3 linked regions of the Homo sapiens genome follow. The protein of the gene in region 2 interacts with the protein of the main gene of each other region in a biochemical or structural test. Each region holds a gene or a part of one and is shown on either strand. Other genes may lie near its edges. The genes, in order: CLCN1, STIP1 and ACVR1.

Region 1 (3,651 bases), on a different chromosome or scaffold from region 2:
GTTTCGCTATGTTGGCTATGTTGGTCTCCAACTCCTGGCATCAAGTGATCCACCTGCCTCAGCCTGCCAAAGTGGTGGGATTACAGGTGTGAGCCACCATGCCTGGCCAACTCTATGGTTTTCAAATGACTTATTTTTAGGTTGGATGAAGACCAAATGAAGTTCTACCCCTTCCTACCCTATGCAAACCCTGGGTTCATAGATTGAAAACAGATGGAGGTTTAGGGTGTTGCTAGTGTCAGGAGCAGTACCTTCATGACGAAGAAGAGAAAGATGATGATGACAACGTTGACCCGGGGGTGAATCCACACAGCTGACTGGCCCAGGCTCTCAGGATCACCCGCGTGTTTCACCCATGTATTGTTGTCAAACAAAGTACTGATGGCTTCGCGGGGCATCAACTGGGAGAGGAAGAAGCAGAAAGGGTGGGTTCTCCAGGGAACTCCTGTGCTTCCTTTTTTAGAGAACTTATTCCCCAGCCTCATTATTCAAGGGTCTCTTTTGCCCTTTTCTCAGGGAGAATCTAGAAAGTCTATCCTTGGACAAAACTACTTATGCTCTGAAGCCTGAGGTATATCTGTGCTGTTTCCTCTTTACCATGTGGCCCCACCAACAGCTGACCTCTCCAGCCATGAATTGACCCATTCCTGGTGGGAAGGTGAATGAGGCAATGACAAAGGTAACAATTCCAGGATACAGCAGGCGGCTGAAAAAGAAACAGAGTTAACCGCCACAATTCAGCCAACTCACAGTAAATACCATACTGAACGATGGCAAGCTGAAGTTTCCTTTAGTCCACCGTAGTCTCATTTCTTTAAATGAAAAAGATTCTCTTCACACAAAAAACCAATATTTGAGGCCGAGTGCGGTGGCTCATGCCTCTAATCCCATGGGGCACTTTGGGAGGCCAAGGTGGGCAGATCACCTTAGGTCACAAGTTCAAGACCAGCCTGGCCAACATGGTGAAACCCCATCTCTACTAAAAATACAAAAATTAGCCAGGCACGGTGGTGCATGCCTGTAATCCCAGCACTTTGGGAGGCCAAGGAGGGTAGATCCCCTGAGGTCACAAGTTCGAGACCAGCCTGGGCAACATGGTGAAACTCCATCTCTACTAAAAATACAAAAATTAGCTGGTCGTGTTGGTGCATGTCTGTAATCCCAACTACTCAGGAGGCTGAGGCATGAGAATCGCTTGAACCCAGGAGGCAGAGGTTACAGTGAGCTGAGATCGCACCACTGCACTCCAGCCTGGGTGATGGAGTGAGACTCTGTCTCAAAAAACAAAAACAAAAATAATCTTTAAATGGGAGACCACACAATTCACCCCCTAACCACAATATCAGAGCTTCCTTATATTTTAATGCAAGCCACCCAGAGGCATTTAATGCCTTCCCCAAAGACAAAAAGGGAGGAACTCTTGGAGAAACCAGAAAGTAAATGGGTAGGGCAAAAGAAGGGCAGTGACTCACTGCTTAGCAAGAAACTGGCTGAGGGCCTTGTGCTTTCGGACACCGAGCATGACTTGGCGATGCAGATACACAAATACAGCTCCCAGGAGCCCACAGCAAATCCTGAGGGTGTAATTTATAGAGTTGGAATCTTACAGACATGAAATCCTCATCTCTTGGACATAACTACTGCAGGGAAACAAATACCAGGCTTCTGCCTTTCCTATCTGCCCACATCCCCCCAGCAATGTACTCTATCTGTGCCAACCGCACCTTCTTTCTAGCTTGGGTCCCTTCCAATCTACAGCCTCACTCCACACCCTGCTCACCACACACAGAGCAGGTAACCCCACTGACCCGATGGCAGCAAAAGCTGGTAGTTCCTTCAGGTCAAAGGGGAAATCCATTCGGAAATTGGTTCTGAACAGAGCAGTGATGGTGACTGTAGGATGGAAAGGCCAGTATTACGATGGGAGCTTCGTAGAAACCCAACAGGGAAACAGAGGTGGGCAGTTTTCAGGATTAATTCCTTCCTTCCTCCAATCCCAGTTTCTCCTCTTGAATGTATTTTCCTTTTTTCTACGCACACTCCTCCATGGATATACTCTCCCACTCCATGACCTATATCTTTGTCATACACCCTTGGGCCTTGGTCCCACCCCACAAATGATGCCGCCCATTATTCCTTTTCTGAACTGCCCCACAGAGTTTTCCTCTGCACCCCATTCCCAGCTTTTCTATTTCACATGGCCTCCACCCAAGGCCTCCTTGGTTACCAGCATCCTTGTTCCACACTGCCAGCACTCGAAACACAAAGGCGCTGAACGTGGCTGCAAAGAATCCTCTCCAGTAGTTCCGAACAGCAAAGTAGGTGGAGGTGACCTCGATGCTAAATAGCACTCCTGCAGGGGCACAGAAGTGTGGTTGGGGGCAGCCAGCAGTGAAAGTGCTCCCCCACACTCCCCACTGCTTGGACCTAAGGAGCTTTTGCTGAAACATGAATCTGGGTGGAAGCAGTAGTGGAAAGTAATGATCTCTTGGATTCCCATGCTCAAAACCACACAACTGCTCAGGCTAGGAGTTTTTTATTTTTATTTCAGACAAGGGATGGGTCCAACACAGAGAAGATTGAAAACGAATGGGCCTTCAACCTCCAAAACATGAGGACCAAGTGTCCGTGCCCTCTGCATCCCTTAGAATGTAGGGTTGAATGGGGTTCACAACTGTCAGATACCCACAGGGACTAAAAGGTAGTTGAAAAAAATCTGCAGAGAAGTTAAGAGAGAGAAAGTTCCAGAGCAGTTCCTCAGTAGAGTTGCCAAGCAGAGCTCAGGATTTACAGGGACTCTCCTTAACACCCTCCTCTGGACTTTCCTACCGTTCTACATATACCATGTACCCTGGGGCAACCTTATAAGGAAGACAGAACAAAAATAGGAGGGGGCTTTGCAGGAGCTGACCATCCTCGATAGTTCAAGAAAAGAAGGTAGAGGAGTCATACAAATAATAATAATAATAAACTAATACTAAAAACCCGACTTAAAAGGACCAACGCAAGGGGAAAAACCAAGAGGCTAGAAGAAGAGAAAAACAATCATGCTTAAGAAAGGTGGGTGAGGCAAAAGGAAAGCTAAGTAGTAGTTCTAAGTAGTACTGTTTCTGAGCGTAGGTGCTGGAGCAGAAATTGAGGGGGTAGATCTACAGAAAAAGAGCAAGGGTTGGTAGGGACAAAGTAAGGAATGCGAGTGAGGGCGTAAAAAGCAACACTCAAGAGAGGCAAAGAAAAAAATATTTCAACATATTAAGAATAAGGGGGGGTGGACTTTAATCTGATGCAAAGTAAAAATTGATGACAAAATTACCTAAAACCTGGCTAAGCCTCATCTTTATCAAAAACGAGGAAAAGGAACCAGGGAAATGCAACCACGCACATAATTGGATGAATGGAGATGAGGCCTGGCCTCAGGAAACCTTGAACTAGGCAGGTTTGTCCCCTTTCTCTCCATGTGAACAGGGTGAACGCCCTCTTCAGGCAGCACCTCGCATCCTAGTAATTTTCTTCTCCCTGTGCTATATTCAAAGGCCACATCTCTTGAATCCCCCAGGACCACCACCTTCTCTTCTACAGGTGACAGTCGACTAGTTACATCAGGTCATTTGCACCAGGGGGAGGGTGGCCTAATGGTTACTCCCAAATGCA
Region 2 (3,651 bases):
ACGCCATTCTCCTGCCTCAGTCTCCCGAGTAGCTGGGACTACAGGCTCCCGCCACCACACCAGGCTAATTTTTTATATTTTTAGTAGAGACAGGGTTTCACCATGTTAGCCAGGATGGTCTCGATCTCCTGACCTCGTGATCCACCCGCCTCGGCCTCCCAAAGTGCTGGGATCACAGGCGTGAGCCACCGCGCCCGGCCCCTAATGTGATTTTTAAGCCCAATATTTAGATGATTATGAGCGTTTAAATTATTATTTCAAGAATTATGTTTTGTAGGCAGAGAAAATCCTGAAGGAGCAAGAGCGGCTGGCCTACATAAACCCCGACCTGGCTTTGGAGGAGAAGAACAAAGGCAACGAGTGTTTTCAGAAAGGTACTGCCTGCAGCTGGGGGATTGGGGGAGCAGTGCTGGGTGTGCCTCCCGTGCCTGGCTGTGGGGTAAATGGCCGGCTACACATGGGGGCTTTTTGCTTTTTAAAAGACAGTCTTTGTTTTTCTTCCCCAGGGGACTATCCCCAGGCCATGAAGCATTATACAGAAGCCATCAAAAGGAACCCGAAAGATGCCAAATTATACAGCAATCGAGCTGCCTGCTACACCAAACTCCTGGAGTTCCAGCTGGCACTCAAGGTGACGAGACCTGTGGGGGCGGCCATTACTGAAAGCCTGCACATGAGGAGTGGGTTTTCTCTCTCTCTCCTCATCAACATTGAGTTGATGATGATCATGATGTTTGAGACAGTGTCTCACTCTGTCCTGCCTCAGCCTCCTGAGGAGCTAGGACCACAGGCTCATGCCTCCACATCCTGCTACATTTTTTATTTTTTTTGTAGAGTTGGGGTCTTGCTGTGTTGCCCAGATTTATAGGGGTGTGTGTGTGTATGTGTGTGTGCGTGTGTAAAATATGGGACCTGTATCTAACTGGTCGTGTGTGTGTGTGTGTGTGTGTGTGTGTGTGTGTGTGTAAAATATGGGACCTGTATCTATCTAACTGGTCCTGGTCCATGGAGTCACTACTGGTTGGCAGTACATTGGAAGGTGGGTCCTTTCACCCCTGTAACCTTCCTCTTTTTTCTTTGTTTTTGCCTTTTTAACCATTTTTAAGAAGTGGAATTGCTGGGTCATGTGGTGTCTGTGTTTACTTTTTTTGTTGGTTTGTTTGAGACAGTCTCACTCAGCTGCCCACACTGGAGTGCCGTGGCACAATCTCGGCTCACTGCAACCACCATCTCCCGGGTATTTTAGTAGAAACGGGGTTTTACCATGTTGGCCAGGCTGGCCTTGAATTCCTGACTTCAGGTGATCCACCCGCCTCAGCCTCCCAAAGTGCTAGGATTACAAGCGTGAACCACCACGCTTGGCCCCCTTTTTTTAAAAAAAAAAAAAAAAAAAGACAAGGTCTGGCTCTATCGCCCAGGCTGGCTGGAGTACAGTGGCACAATCTCAGCTCACTGCAACCTCTACTTCCCTGGCTTAAACCATCCTCCCACCTCAGCCTCCTGAGTAGCTGGGACTACAGGTGTGCACCACTGTACCCAGCTAATTTTTGTATTTTTTATAGAGACAGGGTTTCACCATGTTTTCCCAGGCTGGTCTCAAACTCCTGGGCTCAAGCGAGCCTCCTGCCTTGGACTCCCAAAGTGCTGGGATTACAGGCATGAGCCACTGCGCCCGGCCTATGTTTTATTTTTGAGGAACCACCATATGTTTTTCAGCAGCTGTACCATCCTTGCTTGCTTTTCTGTTTTGCTCAGCTAGGTAGGTCTGCTGTTCTCAGTCATATCAAGTTAGGTCAAATACAATTGTTTGACACTGTGGAGTTCCCATAATCCTCTCGAATCTCAGCCACCCTGCCTCTATCAGCAGTTTTTTTTGACTGTTCTCTAGCTGACAAACCTGGACCGTATTGTGGGAAGGTGACAAAGTGTGACCTGTCTAGAAACAGCCATACCTGGGTTTGTGTTGGTTTTTATATTTTGTGCCACTGTCTTCTGGGTCTGTGTCTTGGCCTAGAGACATCATTTCTACTAGTAGGATTGTGCAAGAGTCATGTCAAAAGCATATTGATTTGTGAGGCAAAGAATAGCAGGTTGTCAATCACCTGGGAGGTGGGCAGTACTTTCCCGATCATGAGAGCGTGGAGAAAGAATGAATGGGATTTCTGCTGCTGTCCCAGCTTCTTGGTGCAAGAGTTGGAATTAATTCCAGGGGAGCTCAGTGTACTGCATAGTGTTCTCTTCCTCATCATTTCTCACTTTGAAGATGTTTCAAAGAGAAGAATACATAGTGAATATCTGGTGTATCTTCCACCTTTATCTGACAAATGTTGACCTGTTTTTGCTGAACTGTTTGCGAAAGGAAATTGTATACATTTGGTACTTAGAATGAGACATCCAAGTCTTGTGCACGCATTGCCTGAAAAGACTCCTGTCCAGTGCAGCACTGTCAGCACACGCGACCTCACCAGACCAAGGCCTGATGCCATCTGCCGTCTGTCCATCCATACTTAGACTTGCCCACTTCTCCAAAAATATGTTTTAAAACTGAGGTTTTTTTATTTTTGTTTGTTTGTTTTTATTTTTTTTTGAGACAGAGTTTCACTCTTGTTGCCCAGGCTGGAGTGCAATGGCGTGATCTTGGCTCACTGCAACCTCTGCCTCCTGGATTCAAGCGATTCTCTTGCCTCAGTCTCTTGAGTAGCTGGGATTATTACAGGTGCAGCCACCAGGCCAGCAAATTTTTTTTTTTTTTTTTTTTTTTTTTTAGTAGAGATGGGGTTTCACCATGTTGGCCAGGCTGGTGTCAAACTCCTGACCTCAGGTGATCCACCCACCTTGGCCTTCCAGAGTGCTGGGATTACAGGCATGAGCCACCGCACCCAGCGTTGTTTTGTTTTTTAGTCAGCAATGGTTTTGGATTCCAAAGCTCTCAGGACCAAGGCCCACGCATTTTGTCTAGTTGTCATGTACTCTTCAGTTTCTCAAACTGGAATTGTCCCCCGCTATGTGTTTTTCATAACATCAGCCTCTTGCAGAGTCCAGGCAGTTTGTCTTGTGTGGGATGATCCATCATCTGGAGTTGTCTTTCCTGATGTTGTCCCCTCTGTTTGGTGCTGGGTGAGGCATTAGAGTTGGAAGTCCACATGCTTGAGTTGCCTGTACTGAGCTTGTCCAAGGGAATGAGCCTAATTTCTTTCTGTTGCTTCATTCTAGGACTGTGAGGAATGTATCCAGCTGGAGCCGACCTTCAGTAAGTGCCTTTCTGCTGCCTGTCCCCTGTCTCTAGCCAAAAGATTAGAGAAGGAAAGGGCAAGCCCTTTGTCTACCTGTGTGTCCTTGGGACCTGTAGGATTTAGGATCCAACATCAGCAGGTGTGAACAGTGTTGGTGTGCAGGTGAAGAGGTGCAAGGAGCAGCCTTGGGCGCTGCGGTTGGATAACGCGCCACCTTTCCTGTTTGTAGTCAAGGGTTATACACGGAAAGCCGCTGCGCTGGAAGCGATGAAGGACTACACCAAAGCCATGGATGTGTACCAGAAGGCGCTAGACCTGGACTCCAGCTGTAAGGTGGGGCTGCTTCTGGCCTCCAGGGGCCCCCCCTGCCTCTTTCTCTGTTGGGGCTTTTCCATGTTCAGTCCCTGATTTCTTCCCT
Region 3 (3,651 bases), on a different chromosome or scaffold from region 2:
ATTTGTTCTTGCCACCTATTGTTCACAACAACTTGGGTTCTTCAAGTTCAAGATAAGCATATGAAAACTGTATGAAAAATAGCACTGGGCACATGTGTCCCTTACTCCTGAAAAGGAAGGTGTCACTCTAGATAACCACCTACACTTTCACTCCTATGCATATTTCTATCTTGTGTAAGTCCCTGACATCAAGACAAGGGATATTCATCCCTAAGCTCCTGCCTTTATGGTCATGTTTGCTTATATGCATTAACTCACTACTTACAGAGAGTAAATCAAGCACATCTTACTTTCACCCCAAGCGTAGCCAACACTCATCAATAGCTGCAATAGTGGAAGTTTCGGAACTTGGTTTAAAACATCACTCAACCCATCCCTTCTATTCCAGAATGCTTTTTCTCAAGTTCTTCTTATTGCACATTTTCCTCAGTACCCACGTTCCAAACTCTCAAGTATCGTCCCATTTCTAATATCCAACTTTGCCCAAGATCACCCCACCTTCGTTCTCCCCTCTGTACATTTCTAAAGTTCAAGGTTATATTTTGGAGGGCCTATCAATATTCTTCCAGAACTGGCTAAAACGGAATCCCCCAAATCAAAGTAATCTTGCTTTTCGATGGCATGGTGATATTAATAGCCAATCTTGGCTTTCATAGATGAGCAAAAGCACACACCCATCAAGTATTCAAGATGAAAAGTTATATGTGGTATGTCCACTGATTTCAGCCCTTAAAAATCTCTCAAAAGAGGAGTTTACTTTGGATTCCACCCATTTTCCAAAGAGGTCACCTACATTTTTCCACCTCTCACATAAGCATGGCCCACCACTACGTTTTCACTGTCAACTGTTTGGAAACATATGCAACAGGAAAAAGTCAAGAGTAAAGTAATTGATTCACTGAGTGTCTGGGTCCTAACTATAAATAATGAAGGATTCCCTGCTCTGTGGGATATAAAAAATTAGTGAGATATTCTTCTCAAAAATGGAAGCATCACTCTTAAATATAAAAAGAAAGAAAGAAACATATGCTGAAAAGAACACAATAAATGTTTGTGGAATTGACTAAGCACAGGTTACAACATTAAGCACTGAGAAGAGGTATCAAAAGCAGTTCCTTCTACATAGAATGTCTTTCGTCCCCACTTTCCAAACTCATCCTTACGGACCACAGTGACTGGTATCATCTTGTCAGCAATCTCCCTGGTTCCCTAGAAGACTAGGTCCCTTTGCTCCCTTAATATGCAATCATCCATTCATTCTCTCGGCAATTCAAAAACAATTTATTGACTGTGTGGTCTAGGCCAGGCATTGTGTTAGGTGCAAAAGTTACACAAAAGATGAATAAGACAGTCCCTTGCCTCAAGGAGCCCAGGGAGAGAATTTGAAAGGTTTTAAGTTGGTGAAGAGCAATGACTTGTGTAGAAAGAATCAATGGAGGAATGAACAACTTGAAGTCCTTGCCCTCAAAGAGATCAATCACATCCCAGAATAAGAAATGGGGATGATAAAACCTAGGAGACTGTCGAAAGGCAAAATGGCAAAATCCAGAAAGCATTCTTGCTTGCAGTAAGATTACTCTGAGCCTTGAAGAATCTGGGTCCCCCAAAAAGGAGGGGAGTGAGGGGCAATGCAGAGACCAGAACAGCCAGGGTTTGGCCTCAAGATGAATGAGAACTGACCTTGGGTGATCCCTCAGGACACTTATGCTAAAAGTGGTCTCACCCCATCCCCCTCTTCAAAACAACTTTCACCTACTGCACAAACCTCCACAAAATTTAGGAAGACTGAAATTTAAAGTTACTTTCCCAGTCACAGAAATAAAGGCCAAATACCCAGAGTCAACAATGAAGTAACTCTAATGGGCAAAGTGGAATGTTGGTCAGAGAGTGAAACCCAAAAATCAAACAACTGAATAGCCGTGGCTCTGGAAAACAAAGCTCTGATGGATCACATAAGAGCCTTTATACATATAAACAATCTCACATTTCCAGAACTGCCTAGAAGCGCACAGGAATAGTATTCGAATGTGTGGTTAGTTTGAATATTAGGGGCAGAGGGTGTATTTGTGTTAACTCAGAAAAGGAAGCTGCCGAATATCTTATTAGTTAATTTTGAGAGTGTGAGTTCAAGCAAAACTACCTCCCATCTGAACCAAAGGCTGTGATGTGCCAACCACACCAAACTGATGAGGCTCTTTCAAAAGGAGTCTTTCATTTGAATGTCCTTCCAACAGACAAACCCTAGTTTAGAACTTCTGATTCTTAAACTTAACATGGCAAGCAAGAGCATTCTATGGCCAACTGCTAAAAATGAGGAGGTAAATCTTCCATTTGGTTCTTCTGAGAGCTGGAATTGGCCACAGAAAGAAACACAAAGTTTTCACTCCAAAAGATCAAAGAAGGTATTTTGTACCAGGAAACCCAATTCCAAATCCTCATTTCCAGGAATAAAGCCACAGTGCCCGGTGCTTGCTTGGGAAAATAAAACAGGAGATTCTGCGGATTCCAATTAAAATTTCTGATGGCTTTATTTCCCAGCCTCACCAGTTTAATGTTGTTAACATTTCATCCAGGCCCTGCTTTAACTTAAATACTGCTTCCAGCTCTGAATGGTCACACCTTACTACTGGGTAAAAAGGAAGGTGTCTTAACACTTCATGACAGTATTCTTTGCCCCATCCCAAGTGCTAGATATATAAGACAAGGTGATGCTGAAAAGTGCTAGCTTCAGCCCAGCCTGTGTCTCCCATAACTACAGCCAGGTGAAACCTCACTGCAGCCCACACTATTTAGTTGCAATATTGGAAAGGAGAGTAGAAGCAGGAGAAAATAGGGGAGGAGGGGGACATACCTCAACCTTATTCAAATATAACAAACAATGAGCTTGCTTTACAATTATTTCCTGGGGTCTTATCGATCAGCCAGTAGTTACTGTGTGCCCACTGCAAACAAGGCACCAAGCTAAATCTATAGTCAGCATAGTGCAGTAAAATATTCCCTAAGTAATCATTATGTTAATGGTTATGTGTTTAATTTTCTTTATCATTTTAGAAAAAATGTATTGTGTATGTAGGTTATAAAGTCTAAAAATAAAATCAGCACCTATGAACCCATCACCCAATCCAAAAACCAGAACATCACCAACACTGTATCATCTACCTACTTCCTCCATTTTTATTCCAGGTCCCTGCAACATACACACACTCCACATAATCATTATTCTGAAGTTGGGGTTTCGGTGCAAGTACAAACGCATATTTATGACTACCTCCTATTCCTAACAAGTGAGTTGGCTTTCCAAATATGGTAGTAATACATAATTTCCTCTCAAAAAAATGATGTCTTTAGGTTCTTTTCTTTAAGTGAATCATTGCTTTAAAGAAAAATATTAATAGAGTAAGTGGGACTCAGCCATGGTAAACTCAGGAAGACAGTATGTGAGTGAATGAACTTTGACAATCACTGGCAAAAGTGGCCAAGAACATGAGTTCTGAAGTCCTGCAGACCTCTGGTTCAAATCCCCATTCTACCACTGAAATTTGCCAAGCCTCAATTTCTTATTGTAGGACGGTAAAATAATAATAAGACATATGGTGTTTGTGGAAATGTCATGAAAAAGTACCTGTGAAGAGCTGAGCCCAGTGCCTAGCA

Evidence for each region.
Region 1: the proteins of STIP1 (region 2) and CLCN1 form a complex in vitro, tested with the Homo sapiens proteins (one study listed by BioGRID).
Region 3: the proteins of STIP1 (region 2) and ACVR1 form a complex in vitro, tested with the Homo sapiens proteins (one study listed by BioGRID).

Annotation. Positions count from the first base shown.
Region 1 is NC_000007.14:143,329,474-143,333,124, reverse strand, and holds part of CLCN1 (chloride channel protein 1), read right to left. Parts: intron 2,354-3,651; coding exon 2,228-2,353; intron 1,894-2,227; coding exon 1,809-1,893; intron 1,575-1,808; coding exon 1,473-1,574; intron 707-1,472; coding exon 622-706; intron 402-621; coding exon 252-401; intron 1-251. UniProt on the Homo sapiens protein: Voltage-gated chloride channel involved in skeletal muscle excitability.
Region 2 is NC_000011.10:64,199,663-64,203,313, forward strand, and holds part of STIP1 (stress-induced-phosphoprotein 1), read left to right. Parts: intron 1-277; coding exon 278-374; intron 375-506; coding exon 507-631; intron 632-3,213; coding exon 3,214-3,250; intron 3,251-3,462; coding exon 3,463-3,566; intron 3,567-3,651. UniProt on the Homo sapiens protein: Acts as a co-chaperone for HSP90AA1. Mediates the association of the molecular chaperones HSPA8/HSC70 and HSP90.
Region 3 is NC_000002.12:157,869,732-157,873,382, forward strand, and holds part of ACVR1 (activin receptor type-1 precursor), read right to left. Parts: intron 1-3,651. UniProt on the Homo sapiens protein: Bone morphogenetic protein (BMP) type I receptor that is involved in a wide variety of biological processes, including bone, heart, cartilage, nervous, and reproductive system development and regulation.